Linked DNA regions of Homo sapiens. The protein of the gene in region 3 purifies or fractionates together with the protein of the main gene of each other region. This does not show direct contact. Each region holds a gene or a part of one and is shown on either strand. Other genes may lie near its edges.

Region 1 (3,656 bases), on a different chromosome or scaffold from region 3:
AATACTCCTAAATAATGTAATAAATACATATGTTAAATTAGGTTAGAATTTCATTATGATCTCCTCACTAGATCTTCTCTCCGTGGCAGGATGCAGACTCATCTGAGCGTATCATTGCTCCCATGCGCTGGGGCTTGGTCCCTTCTTGGTTCAAAGAAAGTGATCCTTCCAAGCTGCAGTTCAATACTACCAACTGTCGTAGTGATACCGTAATGGAGAAACGGTCATTTAAGGTAGGTGGCTGGTAGCTATTAGTGCCCCGTATACCTCAGAAATAAGGTTCCAAAGGGTGTTTCCATCCTAGCCTACAGAGGACAACCAAAAATAAATAAATAACACAAAAAAGAATGTTCCCAGTTGTTAATGTGGAATGCTATTTTGTTACTACATAACAAACCACACCAGACTTAGTAGTGTGAAACAAAATGATAAACATTATCTCTCATATTCTCTGGGTTGACTGGGCTCATCTGGGCAGTTTTCACTTGGAAGTTCTCATGTTGCAGTTAGATGGCAGCTGAGGCTGGATGTCCAAGATGACTTCTTCACCCACATCTGACCCTTCAGCTGGGATGACTAGAACAACTAGAAGGCTTTCCATATGCCTAGCTCGAGGGTGTCAGGGTAGCCAGGCTTCTGTTACGGTGACTCATTTACCCCAGAGCTCATGATCCAACAGAGCAGGACAGAAGATATAAGCCTTTGTCTTACAGCATCACTTAATCTTGGCAGTCATACAGCATTACTTATGCTGTATTCTTTTATTGTTATTGTTTAATTTTTTTTTTTAAATAGAGACAAGGTCTGGCTATGTTGCCCAGGCTGGTCTCAAACTCCTGGGCTCAAGTGATCCACCTGTCTGGGCCTCCCAAAGTACTGGGATTACAGGTGTGAGCTATCACGCCCGGCCTACTTCTGTTGCATTCTATGGGTTACACAGAGCCAGCCCAAATTCAGTGTGGGAGGTGTCTACATAGGGTGTGAATACTGGGAAGCATGCTTCATTGGGGAGGCACCTTTGAAGACTAGCTATGACAAGTACCTATTTGTTAGAAAAGAGGTGATTGCTTTTATGTACATTATTTAATCTTTTCAACATCTATGTGAGTTGTGACTTTCTTTATACATAAGAAAAGAGAGTGGCCGGGCACGGTGGCTCACACCTATAATCCCAGCACTTTGGGAGGCCAAGATGGGCGGATCACGAGGTCAGGAGATCGAGACCATCCTGGCTAACACGGTGAAACCCCGTCTCTACTAAAAATACAAAAAATTAGCCGGGCGTGGTGGCGGACGCCTGTAGTCCCAGCTACTCGGGAAGCTGAGGCAGGAGAATGGCTTAAGTAAACCCAGGAGGTGGAGCTTGCAGTGAGCCGAGATCACGCCACTGCACTCCAGCCTGGGCGACAGAGCAAGACTCCGTCTCAAAAAAAAAAAAAAAAAGAAAAGAGAGGTACAGAGAAATTAAATAACTGTTTTAAGGTCATACATTGGCAGACCTCAGATTTTATGTATTTATTTGTTTGTTTATTTATTTTGAGATGGAGTCTCATACTTTTGCCCAGGCTGGAGTGCAGTGGCATGATCTTGGCTCACTGCCACCTCTGCCTCCAAGTTCAAGTGATTCTCGTGCTTTAGCCTCCCAGGTAGCAGGGACTACAGGTGTGCACTACCACGCCCAGCTGATTTTTATATTTTTAGTAGAGATGGGCTTTCACCTTGTTAGCCAGGCTGGTCTCGAACTCCTGACCTCAAGTGATCCTCCCATCTCGGCCGCCCAAAGTGTTGGGATTACAGCCGTGAGCCACCCGCCTGGCCCAAACCTCAGATTTTAATTCAAGTTCTCCAAGTAATGGCAGCCTGTGAAACATGATTGTATCACTAAGACCATATCTTGCTCACATTTTCCCTCAGGTGCCTCTGGGAAAGGGAAGACGCTGTGTCGTTTTAGCAGATGGATTCTATGAGTGGCAGCGATGTCAGGGAACAAACCAGAGGCAGCCATACTTCATCTATTTTCCTCAAATCAAGACAGAGAAGGTATCATTATCAGCATTCACAATATATATTTGGAAAGGCACAGGGAAACAAATTAATCCAAAGGACATTTTTTTCTTCCCCATAGTTTTATTTATTTATTTTAAAATAACAGCTTTGGCCCAGTGCGGTGGCTCACGCCTGTGATCCCAGCACTTTGGGAGCCCAAGACGGGAAGATTGCTTGAGCCTAGGAGTTTGAGACCAGCCTGGGCAACATGGTGAAACCCCGTCTCTACAAACAATACAAAACTAGCTGGGCATGGTGGTGTGTGCCTGTAGTCCCAGCTACTCGGAAGGCTGAGGTGGGAGGATCACTTGAACCCACGAGATAGAGGCTGCAATGAGCTATGATCACACCACTGCACTGGGCGACAGAGCAAGACTCTGTCAAAATAAAATAAAATAAAGTGAAATGAAATGAAATGAGCTCATTGAGAGATAATTCACCTTAAAATTCACCTTTTTAAAATGTGCAATTCAGGAATGTTTTAGTATGTTCAAAGTATGCAATTATTACCTCTATTTTTAGAATATTTTTATCACTCTAGAAGGAAACTACATATCCATTAGCAATCACTCTTTATTCTCCACTATGCCCAGCCCCTGTCAAACACGAATCTACTTTCCATCTCTGGATTTGCCTATTTTGGACATTTCATAAAAACAGAATCATAGAATATGTGGTCTTTTGTGACTGGCTTCTTTGATTTAGCATAATGTTTTCAAGATTCATCCATGTTTGGCATGGATCAGCACTTCATTCCTTTTTGTAAGAACAGACCACATTTTGTTAATTCATTCATCAGTTGATAGACACTTGGATTGTTTCCACTTCTTGGTTATTATGAATAATGCTGCTATGAACATTCATGTACAAGTTTTGCATGGATTTGTTTTCATCTCTCTTGGATAGATGCCTAGGAGTGGAATTGCTAGGTCATATTACAACTCTACGTTTAACATTTCCTTCATAAAACTTTCACTGTGGCTGGGCGCAGTGGTTCAGGCCAGGCACGGTTGCTCATGCCTGTAATCCCAGCACTTTGGGAGGCCAGAGCAGGTGGATTACTTGAGCTCAGGAGTTCAAGACCAATCTGGGCAACATGGCGAAAACCCATCTCTACCAAAAATACAAAAAATTAGCTGGGCGTGGTCCCAGCTACTTGGGAGGCTGAGGTGGGAAGATGACTTGAGCCCAGGAGGTGGAGGTTGCAGTGAGCTGAGGTCGTGCTACTGTACTCCAGCCTGAGTGACAGAGTGAGACCCCATCTCAAAAATGAAACAAAAACCCTTTCACTGTAAGACATAATTTGAACTGTTCATGTTAAAACATTATCAGGAGATTGAAAACAAATCTGACATGCCAACATCATGTTTTATTTTTAATTAGATTATTTAGTCTGACACTGCTAAAGCACCTGAGTTCTTAGCAGTTTGCTTGTTAAAATTGGGAATTGTTTGTTCACCTGTCATCTCATTTTGGGGACTGGAAATAGTGTTACCGAGTAAAAGGGACTTGCTACCCAATGTGCTAGAAGCCAATACCATGATACTGAGTAGCTGGTCCCAGCTACTTGGCAGGCTGAGGTGGAATGATAGCTTGAGCCTGGGGTGGGG
Region 2 (2,954 bases), on a different chromosome or scaffold from region 3:
CTTGAAGTCAGGAGTTCAAGACCAGCTTGGCCAACATGATGAAACCCTGTCTCTAATAGAAATACAAAAATTAGCTGGGCGTGATGGTGTGTGCCTGTGATCCCAGCTACTCAGGAGGCTGAGGCAGGAGAATCACTTGAACCCGGGAGGCGGAGGTTGCAGTGAGCCGAGATCGCACCACTGCACTCCAGCCTGGGCGCTGGGCAACAGAACAAGAATTGGCCAACTTGCCTACCACTTATTAATAGTACCTCTAATAGGTGAGATTAGAAAAGGTGATGTGCCAAGATGAGGAGGTGGAGTTTTATCCAGACCTCATTTATCTGCATTCCTGTTCCTTCCCAGTCACACTGGGAAGTGAGCTCCCCTGCTCTTAGCATCAGACACATCCTGGAAAGTGTGGGGCAGTGTTGCGTAAACGGATTTTTCTTACAAGTGCTATGGTGACAGAAAGCAGCCTCCTCAGTCAGCACGGCCGGCATTTATCACACATGTGGCATGCGCGCGGCACCGTGCTAACTGGATGTCCTGAGGAATTTAAGCAGGTACGATAAATGCAGTGTATACTGTGGGAGCACTTAGGGGAAGGGACTGATTTGGTCAGAGATGTTAGGAAAGAGGAAGCACCTGGTGACAGCTTCCCAGAAAACACTGCATTGATTGTTAAAGGACAAAAGCAGTTACCAGCAAGCAGGGCTGGGAATTCCACTCAGATGGCACAACCCAAGCAAAGGCGCTGAGAGACCTTGGGGAAAACTGGGATCCACAAGTACTTGGGTTTAGATTTGTGCAAAGTATGACCTAAGGAATGGCCAACTAGGCTACAGAGGGAGGTGCAGCTGGGAAGCCCTTCCACATAAGACCGTGGCTGAAGAAGAGCCAGTGAAGGGTTTAATCATGGGAGGGTGTCACATGGTCAGATTTCTGTTTTAAAGTAAATTACTCTGGTGTCTGTGTGGAGGAAGGCTGGAAGGCTGAAGGTTTGCTGGCAGAAAGACCATTCAGGAAGGAGGGCTTTGCCAAGGCAGTCATCAAGGATGACTATTTTCCATTACTATATAATTTTTTAAATTCTTCAAGGGCTCACAGTTTGATTCACAAAGTTAAGAACTATGTGGGGGCAGGAGACTCCATTTATTTAATTCTAAAAGGGAGCTGCCTCAGAACCAGATGTGGGACTTAGTCGTTTGCACCATCTGCTGTGGGTATAAGCACCGCATACCTGTTTCATTTTCTTCCTCAAAAAGTTCTCCAGGATTGGCTGTATGTTACTCAAACAATAAAAGCACACAAGTCAACAAGTATCAGAGTGCCTACTTAGACAAAGCCAATGAATACATTACCATGGATGTTGCATAAGCCAATACATCAGGGTGGGTTTTGAGAAAAGTGTGCCATAAGCTGCTCTACAGCTTTAAATCACTTTAAAGGTCACTGATGGAATTTTTCAGTCGATCCTAATATAGATTTCACAGCAAGTACCCATTGCTGTAAGTGACAGTGAACCCAGGAAAGGCAGAGATCTGCTCACCAGCATAGACCAGACCACGTGAATGGGAAGGGGCTCAAAGCATGTATGAATAGGAGTCACCATCTGGGGGCCGGGCGCAGTGGCTCATGCCTGTATTCCCAGCACTTTCGGAGGCTGAGGTAGGCAGATCACCTGAGGTCAGGACTTAGAGGCCAGCCTGGACAACATGGCAAAACCCCGTCTCTGTTAAAAATACAAAAATTAGCCGGGGAATTTTGAGAGGGAATACTTGAGAGGCTGAGGCAGGAGTATCAAGCGATTCTCCTTGATTCTTAATTTCATTGAGCCGAGATTGTGCCACTGCACTCCAGCCTGGTCTCAAAAAAAAAAAAAGTCACCATCTGGCCTTTGGTTGGTTATCCACCAAGGATATTCTGGCATCATCAGGAAGAAAATATTCCTGTTGTCCTTTCTACAACCAAGATCCTGTGATCTAGATGGCAGGTATATTTAATGGCAGAACAAACTATCCCAGCAATAATAAAGGATGAGAACCACATGACTCTTTGGCTAGAGGCTTCTCTCTCTTTAAAAGAGTTGCCTGAACATCTTTGGCCTTAAGCAGACCACATCCTCTCTTAGATGGAATAGAGTTAAGAAATAGGCCCACACATATGGCTGACAGTTGATTTTCAACAAAGGTGCCAAAATAATTCACTGGATAAAGTATAATCCTGCAAATGGTATCTGCTATTGGATATCCATATGCAAAAAAGTGAATCTCGATCCTTACCTCATACCATACACAATAATCCAAAATGGATCATAGACCCAAAATGTAAGAGCTAAAGTATAACCTTCTGTAAGAAAACATAGGAGAAATTCTTTGTGCCCTTAAGCTAAGTAAAGACTTCTTGGCCAGGCACGGTGGCTCACGCCTGTAATCCCAGCATTTTGGGAGGCTGAGGCAGGCGGATCACCTGAGGTCGGGAGTTCAAGACCAGCCTGACCAACGTGGAGAAACCCCGTCTCTACTAAAAATACAAAATTAGCCGGGCGTGGTGGCGCATGCCTGTAATCTCAGCTACTCGGGAGGCTGAGGCAGGAGAATTGCTTGAACCCAGGAGGCAGAGGTTGCACCATTGCACTTCAGCCTGGGCAACAAAAGCAAAACTCCATCTCAAAAAAAAAAAAAAAAAAAAAGAAAGAAAGAAATTCTTAGGACACAAAAAGCATGAACCACAGCAGAAAACATTGAGTACACATATATCTGATAAAGGACTTACATCTAGGCTATACAAAGAACTCTTACAACTCAGTGAGAAGATAAAATTTAAATAGACAAAAATTTGAATAGACACTACATCAGAGAAGGCATACAAATGACAACTACATGAAAAGATGTTCAAAGCATTCATCATTAGGGAAATGTAAATTTAAACCAACCACAATGAGATACCACCACACTATCTAGAATGGCTAC
Region 3 (3,656 bases):
GATACAGAACCTTCCTATCACGCTAAATACCCCCTCACGCCCCTTCCCGATCAATGTGCCCCCTGAGGCAGCCAGGGCTGCTTGCAGAAGGGCGACCTTGATCAAACACCCCAACTTGACCCAGGGTCCCCTCCACATGCCAGGCTCCTCCTCCGACTTCCCCCTGACCCCCAAGCTTCTCAGTGAACGTCCAACACCTGTTGCCTCCCCTCACCTGCCATCCGCTCCCCAGCCCCCACAACTGCCACTCATGAAGGTCACGGTGACCTTTTCATGGACACATTCCCCACTCTATTCTTAGTTGTCAACTCCCTTGACCCTCTGCAGTATTTGGCTCTGGGCACCTCGGCTTTCCCAGAGATGAGCTTGCTTGCTGTTTTGTGGCCAAGAACTGAGGTTTCTACATAGATGGGGACATTTTCCCTCCAAAAATAGGAGGAACACCTATAGAGGGAGCATTTAAACTTTTTTTAATTTAATTTGTTTTTTTTGAGATGGAGTCTTGCTCTGTTGCCGAAGCTGGAGTGCAGTGGTGTGATCTCGGCTCACTGCAACCTCCACCTCCTGGGTTCAAGCAATTCTCCTGCCTCAGACTCCCAAGTAGCTGAGATAACAGGCGCCCACGCCCAGCTAATTTTTTTTTTTTTTTTTTTGTATTTTTTAGTAGAGACAGGGTTTCACCATGTTGGCCAGGCTAGTTCTGAACTCCTGATCTCAAGTGATCCGCCCACCTCAGCCTCCCAAAGTGCAAGGATTACGGGCATGAACCACTGCACCCGGCAAACTCTTTGATTTTTAAAACTCAGTGATTTTTAAGATCCTGAGACCAGAAAGCGTGAGCGCCTCCAACCAAGGGTGGAAGAATAGCCAGTTTCAGGATTTACAAACTCTGAAAGCTGAGCTCTCCTGCCCCACACTATATTGTCTCTTTGGTAGGTCCAATTTCAAACTACAAAGCAGACTGCTGCCATCTGCTGTCACCAGCATTTCAGAGAGGAAACAGGCAAAGAGCAGGAGCGACCGATGTCAGCATAATCCCTACCTCACAGCACAGGAAACAGGCTCACAGCATGTCCCAGCTGGGAAATGGCAGAGCTGGGACTCAGACCCAGGCAGCCAGGCTCTGGAGCCATTCCTTTTAACTAGGTGACAACTGTCAGTTTTCCTAGGAAAGTCACAATCTCAGAAAAAAGGCCAATCAGGCTGGCCACGGTGGCTTAAACCTGTAATGCCAGCACTCTGGGAGGCTGAGACGGGTGGATCACAAGGTCAAGATGTTGAGACCATCCAGGCCAACATGGTGAAACCCCATCTCTACTAAAAATACAAAAATTAGCTGGGTGTGTTGGTGCGCGCCTGTGGTCCCAGCTGCTCGGGAGGCTGAGGCAGAAGAATCGCTTGAACCCAGGAGGTGGAGGTTGCAGTGAGCCCAGATCGCACCACTGCACTTCAGCCTGGCGACAGAGTGAGACTCTGTCTCAAAAAAAAAAAAAAAAAAAAGCCAATCCATTCCTTTATTTGTAGCCTTTGAAATCCAGAATGTATTTTACTCTTTCAGCACATCTCAGTAATTTCAGTAATTCAGATGCTAAATTTTCTTTTTTTTTTCTTTTTTTTTTGAGATGGAGTTTCGCTTTTATCACCTAGGGTGGAGTGCAGTGGTGTGATCTCGGCTCACTGCAACCTTCACCTCCCCGATTCAAGTGATTCTCCTGCCTCAGCCTTCCAGGTAGCTGGGATTACAGGCACCCGCCACCATGCCTGGCTAATTTTTTGTATTTTTAGTAGAGATGGGGTTTCGCCATGTTGGGCAGGCTGGTCTCGAACTCCTGACCTCAGGTGATCCACCCGCCTCAGCCTCCCAAAGTGCTAGGATTACAAGCATGAGTCACTGCACCCAGCCTTTTTTTTTTTTTTTTTTTTTTGAGACAGAGTCTCGCTCTGTTGCCCAGTCTGGAGTGCAAAATAGTGCAATCTTGGCTCACTGCAACCTCCACCTCCAGGGCTCAAGCCATTCTCCTGCCTCAGCCTCCCAAGTAACTGGAATTCCAGGCGTGTGCCACCATGCCCAGCTCATTTTTGTATTTTTATATTTGTATTTTTAGCACAGATGGGGTTTCACCACATTGGCCTGGCCATCAGATGCTAAATTTTCATTGGAGATACTTTAAAATATATATATATATATGGCTGGGAGCAGTGGCTCACGCCTGTAATCCCAGCACTTTGGGAGCCCAAGGCGGGCAGATCACCTGAGGTCAGGAGTTCAAGACCAGCCTGGCCAATGTGGCGAAACCCTGTCTCTACTAAAAATGCAAAAATTGGCTGGGTGTGGTGGCAGGTGCCTGTAGTCCCAGCTACTCGGGAGGCTGAGGCAGGAGAATCGCTTGAACCTGGGGGCAGAGGTTGCAGTGAGCCAAGATCGGGCCACTGCACTCCAGCCTGGCCAACAGATCAAGACTGTGTCTCAAAAAAAAAAAAAAAAAAAAAGCCCGGCTCTGAAGCAGACCCTGGCTCTAAGCATTTTACTGAATATCATAACACCTCAAACGGTCGAATATCACAACACTCCACTGAATATCACAGCACCTCAAATAGTTGCTATAAATGAAGAGAGGCACAGAGGCGGTGCCCTAGGTTATGCAGCTAGTGAGTCCTACAGCTGTGTTTGATCCAAGCACCTGTGGCTTTGACCATCCACTGTGCCAGCTGGCTGCAGGCGGCCTCAGGCACTGTGCTGAACTCTGGGAGTGGATCAGACAGCTAGTGTGTGTCTTGTCCTCCCCTGAAATCCTGTCTCCTTTCTCCTCCAGAGCACTGCCAAGGTTTGCCTCCTCCAAGAAGCCTGCCTCTCCGGGATCAGTTAGGTTCTCCTTGCACTTGACCGTGCCCTGAGCTACCTCCGTTACAGCCCGTCCCTCGGTATTTCGGCTCCAGAGTAGGGGCCCTGGTTGGTGGGGCCTGGGTTGAACTTCAGCCTGGGTCCCAGCATTGCCTGGCACCTGGGAGGTCTCAGAGATGTCATGATAGAATCAATGAACCACCTCCAATCCTAGGGCCAGGGGAGGTGGGTTAGCAATGAACTAACCATGCAGCCATGACATCATGCCATTAATACACTAATAATTCATTAGTAACATGTGAATCACAGAAGCACTGGAAGAACAGAAGTAATCATCACATCCTTCAACCCCTTAAGAATCAGACCTTGTGGGAAGCACTTTCCACATGTGAACACATTCGGTCCTCATGACAACCTCCCCACGTTCTGCCCATTTATTTTATTTTATGTATGTATGTATGTATGTATGTATTTATTTTGGAGACAGTCTCACTGTCACCAGGACTGAAGTATTTTTTTTTTTTTTTTTTTGGAGACGGAGTCTCACTCTGTCACCCGGACTGGAGTGCAGTGGCACGATCTTGACTCACTGCAACCTCCACCTCCCAGGTTCAAGTGATTCTCCTGCCTCAGCCTCCCAAGTAGCTGGGATTACAAGCACACACCACCATGCCTAGATACTTTTTTTGTATTTTTAGTAGAGACGGGGTTTCACCATGTTGGCCAGGCTGGGTCTTGAACTCCTGACCTCAGGTGATCTACTACCTCGGCCTCCCAAAGTGCTGGGATTACAGGCATGAGCTACCGCGCCCAG

Evidence for each region.
Region 1: the proteins of NOSIP (region 3) and HMCES fractionate together in Homo sapiens (co-fractionation; one large-scale study listed by BioGRID). This does not show direct contact.
Region 2: the proteins of NOSIP (region 3) and BCAR3 purify together in Homo sapiens (co-immunoprecipitation; one large-scale study listed by IntAct). This does not show direct contact.

The regions. Positions count from the first base shown.
Region 1 is NC_000003.12:129,288,765-129,292,420, forward strand, and holds part of HMCES (abasic site processing protein HMCES), read left to right. Parts: intron 1-89; coding exon 90-233; intron 234-1,914; coding exon 1,915-2,040; intron 2,041-3,656.
Region 2 is NC_000001.11:93,564,011-93,566,964, reverse strand, and holds part of BCAR3 (breast cancer anti-estrogen resistance protein 3), read left to right. Parts: intron 1-2,954. UniProt on the Homo sapiens protein: Acts as an adapter protein downstream of several growth factor receptors to promote cell proliferation, migration, and redistribution of actin fibers.
Region 3 is NC_000019.10:49,570,504-49,574,159, forward strand, and holds part of NOSIP (nitric oxide synthase-interacting protein), read right to left. Parts: intron 1-3,656. UniProt on the Homo sapiens protein: E3 ubiquitin-protein ligase that is essential for proper development of the forebrain, the eye, and the face. Catalyzes monoubiquitination of serine/threonine-protein phosphatase 2A (PP2A) catalytic subunit PPP2CA/PPP2CB.